Linked DNA regions of Homo sapiens: region 2 is linked to region 1. Evidence: fine-mapped expression QTL. Tissue or cell type: cerebellar hemisphere. Region 1 holds a variant in brackets; the other region holds the start of a gene. All regions are shown on one strand. Distances are between the middles of the regions.

Evidence for each region. PIP is the estimated chance that this variant, and not a neighbour inherited with it, causes the effect. A credible set is the group of variants that fine-mapping cannot tell apart.
Region 2: ZFAND2B starts here. The variant in region 1 is the best candidate, but not a certain one, in a credible set for the expression of ZFAND2B in cerebellar hemisphere (GTEx, PIP 0.88).

Annotation. Positions count from the first base shown.
Region 1 is chr2:219,167,486-219,172,855 of GRCh38, forward strand. It overlaps SLC23A3 (solute carrier family 23 member 3), which reads right to left and starts at 2,544. Exons shown (of 12, transcript NM_001144889.2): 1 at 2,338-2,544; 2 at 2,036-2,193; 3 at 1,824-1,921; 4 at 1,544-1,617; 5 at 1,167-1,348; 6 at 710-833; 7 at 445-559. The coding sequence starts at 2,499. CNPPD1 (cyclin Pas1/PHO80 domain containing 1) reads right to left here. Exons shown (of 8, transcript NM_015680.6): 8 at 4,412-5,370. The coding sequence ends at 5,101. RefSeq lists enhancers at 3,831-3,990, 4,041-4,090. The variant C/A (reference allele first, on the strand shown) is at 2,911.
Region 2 is chr2:219,203,887-219,209,256 of GRCh38, forward strand. It overlaps ZFAND2B (zinc finger AN1-type containing 2B), which reads left to right and starts at 2,896. Exons shown (of 9, transcript NM_138802.3): 1 at 2,896-3,156; 2 at 3,441-3,535; 3 at 3,762-3,893; 4 at 4,001-4,152; 5 at 4,370-4,462; 6 at 4,540-4,600; 7 at 4,686-4,753; 8 at 5,091-5,163. The coding sequence starts at 3,102. RefSeq lists enhancers at 2,488-2,737, 3,855-4,354 and a silencer at 2,788-3,187.

The DNA of each region.
Region 1 (5,370 bases):
GCACAGTGGCTCATGCCTGTAATCCCAGCATTTAATCAAGCAGATCACTTGAGCCCAGGAGTTTGAGACCAGCCTGGGCAACATGGTGAAACCCTGTCTCTACAAAAAAAAAAAAAAAAAAAAAAGCACACCTGTAGTCCCAGCTACTCCGGAGGCTTAGGTGGGAGGATCACCTGGGCCTGGGAGGTTGAGGTTGCGTGAGCCATGATCACGCCATGCACTCCACCCTGTATGACAGAGTGAGACCCTGTCTCAAACAAACAAACAAAAAAACACCTACAGTGAGGGGCTAGCATTGTCTGTCTCTCAGACTGATAATTTCTCTCTCCTATATGTTTTCAAAAAACACAGGATTTAACTCAGAAATAAAATCCATTAAGTTCTTTGAGTTCAAATAGATACCTTTATTTGAACAAGAGAATGGAGGACTAGGAGAAAACCTACCTGGGTGAGGCAGCCAAATCCATGGTGCCTTGGTGGGGGCAGACAGTTCCTGGGGGATAACACTGAATCCCACAAAGGCAGAAACAATCCACACACAGGCCACTGGGATCAGCACCTGAGGGGCGAGACTGAGAAAAGAACTCCTCCCCCAGAACCTTCTGAGCCAGCCTTGCAGGGGTAGACAGAAGCCAAAAGGTAGGGGATGGAGTGAGCACTCCAGGCCAGCCCTTCTGACCTCTACTGCCCTGCCCAGACCCACACATACCGAAAGGAGCCGGAAGACAGGGAGAGGAGTGTGAGTTGATGACGTTGAAGCTCGCCTCCAGGGGCACACATGAAACTGGCAGGAGCCCAGGTGCTGAGAACAGACCACCATGAGCAGGATAACCCTAGGAGACAGAAGGCTTTAGGAGCAAGAGGCAGTGGGTATCCTGAGGGATGGGAAAGGAGGTGGGAGTGGGCAGAATATCATAAGAGCGGGGGGTGATACCAGAGAAGGAAACTCCCATGGAAGGAATAGGAAGTGACCTTGGGGGACAGCAGAAAACAGTGTGAAATTCAAGGAGACCAGATGAATCAAGGAAAAGTCTTGGATTCCAAATATAAAATATGTCCCTATTCCAGTCGCTGCTGAATCTGATAGGACCAGCAGTTCTGCCCTCCCCTAGTCCCCCCATACACCCCCACTGGGCACCATCCCACGCCTCTCAGGACTCACGTACAGCAAGGCCAACCCCCAGTGTGTGAAGCAGAACTGGGCTACCTCCCTGTGGGCAGAGAGCCCTGCCACAACCAGGCTGGGAGCCAGCACCAGGGGCCCACAGTGGGGGAACACGTGGCCGGGACTCCCCAGCAGCCCCATCATGCCCTGCAGCAGCCCAGATACTACCACTGCCCCGGACACCTGGTAGAAGAGAGGAGAGGATGGAGAGAAAACATTCTGCTCAATCAAACTGGCCTCAGCCTGGTCTTCCTAATTCTAAGTATGGGTTCCTCCCAAAACTCCTTTCCAGGAGCATCTCAGTCTGTGCATAATGGAAACAAGAGCCCCCCCCAAGCCTGGCACCACCCTTATCCCTTCTCACCTCCAGATACCCACCTCCTGGAGAGAAGTGTTCCAGTGCCCCAGGCCATGGCAGCTAGGTCCCCTACAAAGGTGCAGCATGAGGGAGGCTAGGAAAAGTTTGGGGCATGGAGAAGAGAAGGGTGAATGGAATGGAGACCCATTGCTCTACAGTCCCACTCCTGGCACAGGTCCAAGCCCCCTATAGTGTCACAGTCTCACCACTGCCCAATCTCAATTCTGCACCCACCTACACCTGCATGCTCAGATGAGAACCCAGCCCCACCCTTACCCCTTGCCCTTGCTCTGTGCTCACAGTTTCCAGGTGTCTGGATGGCCCGGGGTAGCTTCTGGCTGGTCAGCACCAGAGCAGGGATAAGGAACTCTAAGGATGGAGCCTGGACAAGAGGCAGCCTGTAGGAACAGCAGCCCCAGCAGGTCTGGGACTATGTGGCAGCCAGCAAGGCTCCCCCAAACCTCTCCTACCCTCCAGGACTCTGCCCCTCTCTCCAGGGAGGTTCCTCTCACCTGCTGCCCATCCAAGTTTGCAGGATGGTAGACATACCACATGAAAAGAAGCTGGAGGCCAGGAGCTGAGAAGGGGAGTAAGAGAGTCCTCCTGGGGAGAGACTGCAAAGCAGGAGCAGGTGGGAGACACAGAGCAGAGAAGCCATGACCAAGACATGCTGCAGGTGGAGGAATGGGGAGGGCAGTCTTCAGAGAAGTGGAAATACCTACAATACTTCCAGAGGCTTTCACATGCCACATCTACACCTACTTCCCCACACACACCATCAGGCAGCACCAACTCCTGCACCTCTGCCTCCTACCTGCAGAGCCAGAAGACAGCTGAGGCCCCAAGGCAGAGATCCACACAAAGGGTCCCAAGAGTGGGTGGAGGGATTCTGGGGAGCAGGTGGAGGCAAGGGGGCCAGGGCATCCTGGGAGCCCACTGATCGGAGTTGGCTGGGATTGAGGGGTGATCGGCTCATGCTGCCTTGCCTTTCGCTTTGTCTTGGCTGCCCGGGACCAGAGTTAAGTAGAGAGAGTAAGAGGTCAGAGTTTGGGTGAAGCCTGGGGTGGGGAGAAGGTGGGGAGAGGGTGGGGGTGTCAATGAAGCGGAGCAAAGGTATAAGGAATTTGGGGCAGGGCACCACCCTTTCACCTTTGCCCAGCTGTTGTGCAAATTCCATCAGCCATTAACTGGGGAGCTGAGTTCTGGGGCCCTCCCCCGAGAATCTTCTTCCAGATTTCCTGCCCCTAGACCAGGCTGTAGAAAGTAGGATAGGAGGGGTGGGGAGGAGAGGAGCTCTTCAAAATAATATGGGGAAATTTTGCAGACTTTATTCCCTCCCATTTAAAACTATCACTATTTGATCCACAGTCCTCACCCCTTTCAGAAC[C/A]AAGGCCCCTGGACTACTTCAAAATGAAACTTGTGGGCTCAGTATGGTGGCTCATGCCTGTAATCACACCACTTTGGGAGGCCGAACTGGGTGTATCACTTGAGGTGAGGAGTTCAAGACCAGCCTGGCAACATGGTGAAACCATCTCTACTAAAAATACAAAACTTAGCTGGATGTGGTGGCACATCCCTGTAATCCCACCTACTCGGGAGGCTGAGGCACAAGAATTGCTCGAACCCAGAAGGCGGAGGTTGTAGTGAGCTGAGACCGTGCCACTGCACTCCAGCCTGGGTGACAGAGTGAGACTGTGTCAAAAAAAAAAAGAAAAAAGAAAAAAAGAAACTTGTGGACAATATATCCTACATCACATGTGACAACCACAACTACCTGAAACATGCTCACTGTAAAGAATAAAATTTATAATAACATGTATTTCATTACGTGAAGGCTTAAGCACAACTAAACCAGAAGACAATAAAGTACAATGAAGTAGTCCAATCCCACACCCTATGAGAATTGCTGTGGTTGCAATAGCTGCAATGCCAGCTGATATTGGTGCTTTATCGGTGACTCTGATGTTGGTAACCCGATTTTCAAAATGGCAAACAAACTCTTGGTTAAGGTGCCAAGCAAAATAAAGTCGTCTTAATTTACATGGGAATGAATTCCTAGCAAACTGAGTCTTTTCAAAACGCACAAACGCTATTTCACGTTTACATGTGCAAAGACAGTTCTAGGCTCAGATAAACAGGGTTTTCATATACATAAAGCTGGTCATTCAAAAGTTGTCTTGGGAATTCTTCACAGTACGGGAGGTCTGAGCATTTCATGATGTCTAGCATCCCGCCCAGGTTGACGAAATGCCAGTAGCACCCCATCCCCTTGAATCCTTTTGACAATGAAAAAATAGCCCATAAATTTCCAAAATGCCCCCTAGGGGGCAGAACCACTTCTTCCGTGAAGTATCCTCAGCAGTCCCAAATACCCTCAGCCAAGCTGCCCAGACTGTTTTCCTTCCTCCAGTGATGACCCAGCCTTGGAGTTCTTCAAGTTCTTGGAATTGTTAAGCACCATGTGACCATCACCATGTGTCAGACCAGTGAGGAGGTCAGGAGAGAGAAGCGTCCTCGTGGCTTGCCCTCAGGAGCTCACAAGGCTCTGCTGGTTACAAGGCCTGGCCCCTCTCCACGAGATGTGCTTTGGGATCCACAAGGAGAGTGCTTACCCAGAACAAGTGACAGACAAGGCCAACTCAGGGACAGGACAGTCACCATGTGTGTCCCATGGCATCCCAAGTTGAGCAGTGCTAGGGCCCAGGGTCCTGGGAGCAGGAACAAAGTTGGAAATGGAAGCCTATGCCTATCAAACGATAGGAAAGTCCTGAGATGAGGCTGAGAAAACAGTTTGTGAGATGACAGGATCAGGAAGCAGGGAGGCTTGGAAGGCAGATACAGGGAGGAAAAATCTTCAAGGGCTGCCGCAGAAGGAAAAGTCCAGGCCATGCAACTGAAACTGTTTATTGAAACCTCAGTTCTACAAAAGCGTGAAAAACCCTGATACAAAGCAGTGGCCAGAGAGGCCTGGGAAGAGAATACCTGGGAGAAGAACCAGAAGAGAGGGAAACCTAGGAGCAGGACACTAAGAGAAGACTGGAAGACAAAAGATCAGGGTTGAAGGTCCCAGCAGTCCTTGGCTCCATTAGACTAAAGCTAAGGAATGGGAGTGAAAAGGGTTCCCTGCCTCACCCAGCAGCTCCCACCTGAACCCATCAGTCCCCGGCTCTTCTGCCTCAGGGACATCACACAGGCCCATGCCAACATTTCCTTTCTCCTCTCACCCCACTTCCCTTATCTCCCACCTATACTCTTCCATCCTAGGGAAATCAAAAGTAAAAGTCTAAAAAATCCCAGGGAGGCAGAGAGGGGCTTCTATGTCCATCTGGGACATGTCCCTGGTCACCAAGCGGAAGCTCTCCCTGGCGGCATCACTGTCCTGGCCAAGCAGCCAGCCACTGCGATCTAGGAGTGAATTACCTTCAGTCCTTCTGCCCCACCACCCCATAAGCTCCCACCCAGGAGGACAGGGGACCTGCCAAGGACCCAGCGAGGCAGACAGGATCTGAATCAAGCTTTGCTCCTCCAGGTTCTCAGAAACTCCCAAACCCTCTTAATGCATTCCTCACAGCCCTACCTAGCCTGGGAAAACGAAAGACTTGAGGCGAGCCAGCTCCATGACACTGAAAAGGGAACATTGCTGAGGCTGAGGAAGTGAAAGGAGCACCGGGCTCCAAGGCCAGGGGGGAGCCAGGCCATAGGTATGGTACCAGGGGCTGGACAGCGCAGTGGGGACTGTACGGTTGGGGTGGAGGCAGGCATGGCAGGTTGGGGAGTCTCTCTGGAGCTTCTGGCAAAGGTGGCAGTTATGAAGAAGAGTGGGAGGGGCAGGGGGGTCTGGGGGAGG
Region 2 (5,370 bases), 36 kb after region 1:
CCTGGGCTGGTAATCAGCACAGAGAGCTTAGTCAGGACTATAACCCATCAGTCAGAAAAATATTTGCCTGGGAAGAGAGATACTACCGTGAGAGCTTCATTCACTTTTATCGTGGTCGCTGGGGTCTCTGAGGTAAGTCTGTTATGGCATGATATGGTCTGGATATGTGTCCCCTCCAAATCTCATGTTGAAATGTATTCCCGCCGGGCGCAGTGGCTCATGCCTGTAATTCCAGCACTTTGGGAGGCCGAGGCGGGCGGATCACGAGGTCAGGAGATCGAGACCATCCTGGCTAACACGGTGAAACCCCATCTCTCCTAAAAATACAAAAAATTAGCCGGGCGTGGTGGCATGCGCCTGTAATCCTAGCTACTTGGGAGGCTGAGGCAGGAGAATGGTATGAACCCGGGAGGCGGAGGTTGCAGTGAGCTGAGACTGTGCCACTGCACTCCAGCCTGGGCGACAGAGTGAGATTCTGTCTCAAAAAAGAAAAAAAAAAAAAAAAAAAGAAAAGAAAAAGAAATGTATTCCCAATGTCAGAGGTGGGACCTGGCAGGAGGTGATTGGAACCTGAGAGTGGACCCCTCATGAATGGCTTAGTGCCATCCTCTTGGTGATGAGTGAATTCTCACTCAGTTCACATCAGATCTGGTTTTGAAAAGACTCTGGGACCTCCCTCTTCTCTCTCTTGCTCCCACTCTTGCCATGTGACATGCCTGTTCCCCCTAGGCCTTCTGCAATGATTAGAAGCTTCCTGAGGCCTCACCAGAAGCTGAGCAGATGCTGGCACCATGCTTCCTATGCAGTCTGCAGAACCATGAATAAATTAAACCTCTTTCTTTATAAATCAACCAGCCTCAGATTTTTTTTTTTTTTTAAAGACAGGGTCTCACTTTGTTATCCAGCTGAAGCACAGTGGTACAATCATAGCTCACTGCAACTTCGAGCTCCTAGGCTCAAGCAATCCTCCCACCAAAGCCTCTCGAGTATTTGGGACAACGGGTGGATGCCACCATGCCCAGCTAACTTTTTAAAAATTTTTTTTGTAGAGAGGGAGGTCTTACTATGTTGCCCAGGCTGGTCTCAAACTCCTGGACTCGAGTGACCCTCCCACCTTGGCCTCCGAGGGATGGGATTACAGGCATGAGCCACCATGCCTAGCGAGGTATTTCTGTATAGCAACATAAGAACAAATGACTACATTTGCACTTCAAGCATTCTGGCTCATGCTCAAAAATGAGATCCGAAGATTTTTATTTTTTGAGTTCCACAAGGCTTTGGTTATCTGAGCATTTGTAAAGTGGGAGTGGGGAGAGAGGCAGTGTTTATCTTTGTTTAGTCTGCTCCATACACGTTTCTCCAAACTGAAAGCCTACAATTCTTTCTATTTTTGTAGAGACAGGGTCTCACTATGTTGCCCAGGCTGGAACTCCTAGGCTCAAGCGATCCTCCTGCGTCAGCCTCCCAAAGTGCTGAAATTACAAGCGTCAGCCACCATGCCGGGACTGGAAGCCTACAATTCTAAATTGTACTGATGAATATAGAGAGGAAAAAAAATGAATAAACAAAATTCTTAGAACCAAATGATTATAATGAGACTGGGAAAAAATTATTTGAAATCTGACAGTTATATATTGAAACAAAATAAAAGCATTTATAAAGTCCTGGATGCAATTTAAAATAAAAAGAATATTGGCTGGGAGTGGTGGCTCATGCCTGTAATCCCAGCACTTTGGGAGGCCGAGGCGGGCAGATCACGAGGTCAGGAGTTCGAGACCAGCCTGGGCAACATGGTGAAACGCCGTCTCTAAAAATACAAAAATTAGCTGGACGCAGTGGTGTGCACCTGTAGTCCCAACTACTTGGGAGGCTGAGGCAGGAGAATCGCTTGAACCCGGGAAGCAGAGGTTGCAGTGAGCCGAGATCATGCCACTGCACTCCAGCCTGGGTGACAAGAGTGACACTGTGTCTCAAAAAAAAAAAAATTATATTGGTCAGGTGTGGTGGCTCACGTCTGTAATCCCAGCACTTTGGGAGGCCAAGGCAGGAGGATCACTTAAGGCCAGGAGTTCGAGACCAATCTGGGCAACAAAGAGAGACCCCTCCCCAACCCCATTTCTACAAAATTAAAAATTAGCTGAGCACGGTGGCTTGTGCCTGTAGTCCTGGCTACATTCAATAATTACTAAGAATATTCTAGGCTAGGGTTTTTCAGAGTGTGGTGCATGGCAATCTGTGTCAGAATTCCTTCAGGTGCTTCCTACTGAATTAGAAGCTCCAGGGCCCGGAAATCCGCATTTTAAACTAGCTCCGTAGGCGATTTGGATTCACACTAAAGACTGAGGACCACACTGTTCTAGGCACTGTTAGGTGCTGGGACCTAACACGAAACAAGGTAGACGTGGTTCCTGATTTCCCAGTATGCTCATATAGGGGTTGGTCGCATTAGTGATATGGGTGCTAGAATGGAAGAAGTAAGATCACATAGCAGGTGCGCCTAGTTCAGACTGAGGAGGGATCTGCAGCTCTAGAGACGTCTGTACTTCAGAGAAATACAGGAGCTGTCAGCTCGTGGAGGCGAAGGGCAGCCGTGGCCGTGAACAAAATGGCCAGGAGGAGGGCATCGTGTGTGAAGCGGGCTAAGGACCGAATTGTGAAAGACCCCAAACCACCCAGCCTTCCATCCCCCAAGATATCCGTCTTTGCCTTCGCTGGCCTTCCTCTGCGGAGCTACGCCCGCGCCCAGGGTGGCGGAGCCGCGCATCAACACCCTCTCGCCTCGGGACAGTCTTCCGACTCAGCCTTCTAGAGCAAGGCGAGGCGGGGCGGGGCTCAACCGAGGCCCTCCCCGGCTGCCCGGAGACTGCGCCGGACGCGCCAGCCCTGCGGGATGACGTCAGCGCGCCGCGCGCGCCGAGGGAGGAGCGGGCGCCGGGGGCCGGCTGGCGCGGGGGCTCCGGTAACCCGGGCTGGGCGGGGGAGAGGAAGGGGCGGGGCAGGGAGCCCGCCAGAGTGCGGGGTCGCGGTGCGGACTTCGAGCACGAGCCCTAAAGACGCTCAGCACTCGTCGCTTCTCCTAGCAGACCCTGCCCGGCTTGGCGATGGAGTTTCCGGACCTCGGCGCTCACTGTTCGGAGCCGAGCTGTCAGCGCTTGGGTGAGGGGCGGAGCGCGCGGGGGGCGGGGCCCAGCGGACAGGGACTTTGAACCGCAGGTTGGGAGGGAAGGGTGGGCTCCCAGGCTGGCAATGCCGGGGGGCGGGGCTTGAAGCTGGGGGGGGGTGGTCAGCGGCAGAGGGGGCGTGGCCAAGGAGGTAATGGGCTTGGGAAGGGGCGGTGTGTCGAAAATAGGGTGGCGTTTTCCTTCCCGAGTGGAAGACTTGAGTGAGAGAGAAGGACATCGAGGTCCCGCTGGACCTGCAATCCGACCAACTCTTTGCAGATTTTCTGCCGCTTAAGTGTGATGCCTGCTCAGGCATCTTCTGCGCAGACCATGTGGCCTACGCCCAGCATCACTGTGGATCTGCTTACCAAAAGGTGAGGGGGCGATCCTCAGGGTGAAAGCAGGCAGATGGAGAATGCGTGCAGAATCCCCCAAATCTGTGTCTCACGTTTCTTCTCCCTTTTGTCCTTCTGAGGCTGTCAGTGCTGGGAAACACTGTTTTTTTGCGTGTTTGTGGTGGGTCATATCCAAGTTCTTTCAGGACCAGAGATTTGTTGGACTGGAGTGGGCCACAGACTGACCCTTGCTCCTTGACTACAGGATATCCAGGTACCTGTGTGCCCTCTCTGTAATGTGCCTGTGCCTGTGGCCAGAGGGGAGCCCCCTGACCGTGCTGTGGGAGAGCACATTGACAGAGACTGTCGCTCTGATCCAGCACAGCAAAAACGTAAGGTAAACATTGTAGGGGTCAGCCACAACCCAGCTGGGACTACGGATGCCTGGAAACCCAAACAGCTAATCAGAGTCTCAGCAGAGACAACCTTCTCACTTCACCTCAGATCTTCACCAATAAGTGTGAACGCGCTGGCTGCCGGCAGCGAGAAATGATGAAACTGACCTGTGAACGCTGTAGCCGAAACTTCTGCATCAAGCACCGGCATCCACTGGACCATGATTGCTCTGGGGAGGGGCACCCAACCAGCCGGGCAGGGTAATGGCAGCCAAGTCCTCCACTTGCTTTTGGGAAGCATTCTTTTGGAACTGACTCAAGCTCTGTTGTTATAAATTGGGGAGCTTCAACCCTACCCTGTCGGCTAGGGGAGTCTTTTAGCTTCCTTTTCAAGTGCATGTTTTTCCAGAACTCCCCTCCTGACTTCCTGGGTAAGGCTAGTTCTTGGAGACATGCCAAAAATCTCTCTTCCCTACAGACTTGCTGCCATCTCCAGAGCACAAGCTGTGGCTTCTACAAGCACTGTCCCCAGCCCAAGTCAAACCATGCCTTCCTGTACCTCTCCCAGCAGGTAGGCCTGCCCGTTTCCCTGCTCCCCCTTTTTCCCCTTCACACCTCTGACCTCCACCTCTTCAATGTCTGTCGTAGAGCCACAACCCGATCTCCGTCCTGGACAGCCCCTCCAGTGATTGCTTTGCAGAATGGCCTGGTGAGTTGGGCAGAGGTTGGATGGACAGAAACAAACACACAGAGAGTGAAGTCCAAGGACGCTGGTCTTCTTTCTCCCTTTGTAGAGTGAGGATGAAGCTCTGCAGCGGGCCCTGGAAATGTCCCTGGCAGAAACCAAACCCCAGGTTCCAAGGTACCTTACCCTCTTGTGAAAGAGAGCGCAAGCTGTGGGCAAGGGCTTGGTCTGGAGGCAGGTAGGTGGGACCACTCTGACACAATGCAAGATAATCGCTGGCAACTTGGTCTCAAAATTAAGATGAACTATATGATCTTTGACAAGTTATTTAACCCATGGAGCCTTCATTTCCTCTATAAAACGGGGACAATACTAATACCCACCTTGTAGTGTTGCTATGAAGATTGAGATAATCCTCAGCAGTGCTCAGCACCATGAGGCCCAACACACACAGATCAGATGTTCAAATTTCAGATCTTACCATCATCCAACTTAAACTGTTTCTCCCTCCCAGTTGTCAGGAGGAAGAAGACCTAGCTTTAGCACAAGCACTGTCAGCCAGTGAGGCAGAATACCAGCGGCAGCAGGTATGAGGCTGGGCTGAAGATATATGCTGCAGTGGAAGGGAGGAAGAAGTCAGGGATGGGGGTTCTTCCTAGTGGTGCAGAGTTTTGGAATGGTGGTTATCGTCTGGTTTTCAGTATGACTCCAGCCCATGCTGAGCTCTGAAATGAGGGCTGTCCCTCATTTCCTTGACGTTGCACTGTGTCTTCCCCTCCTTCCCCTCTCTTTGC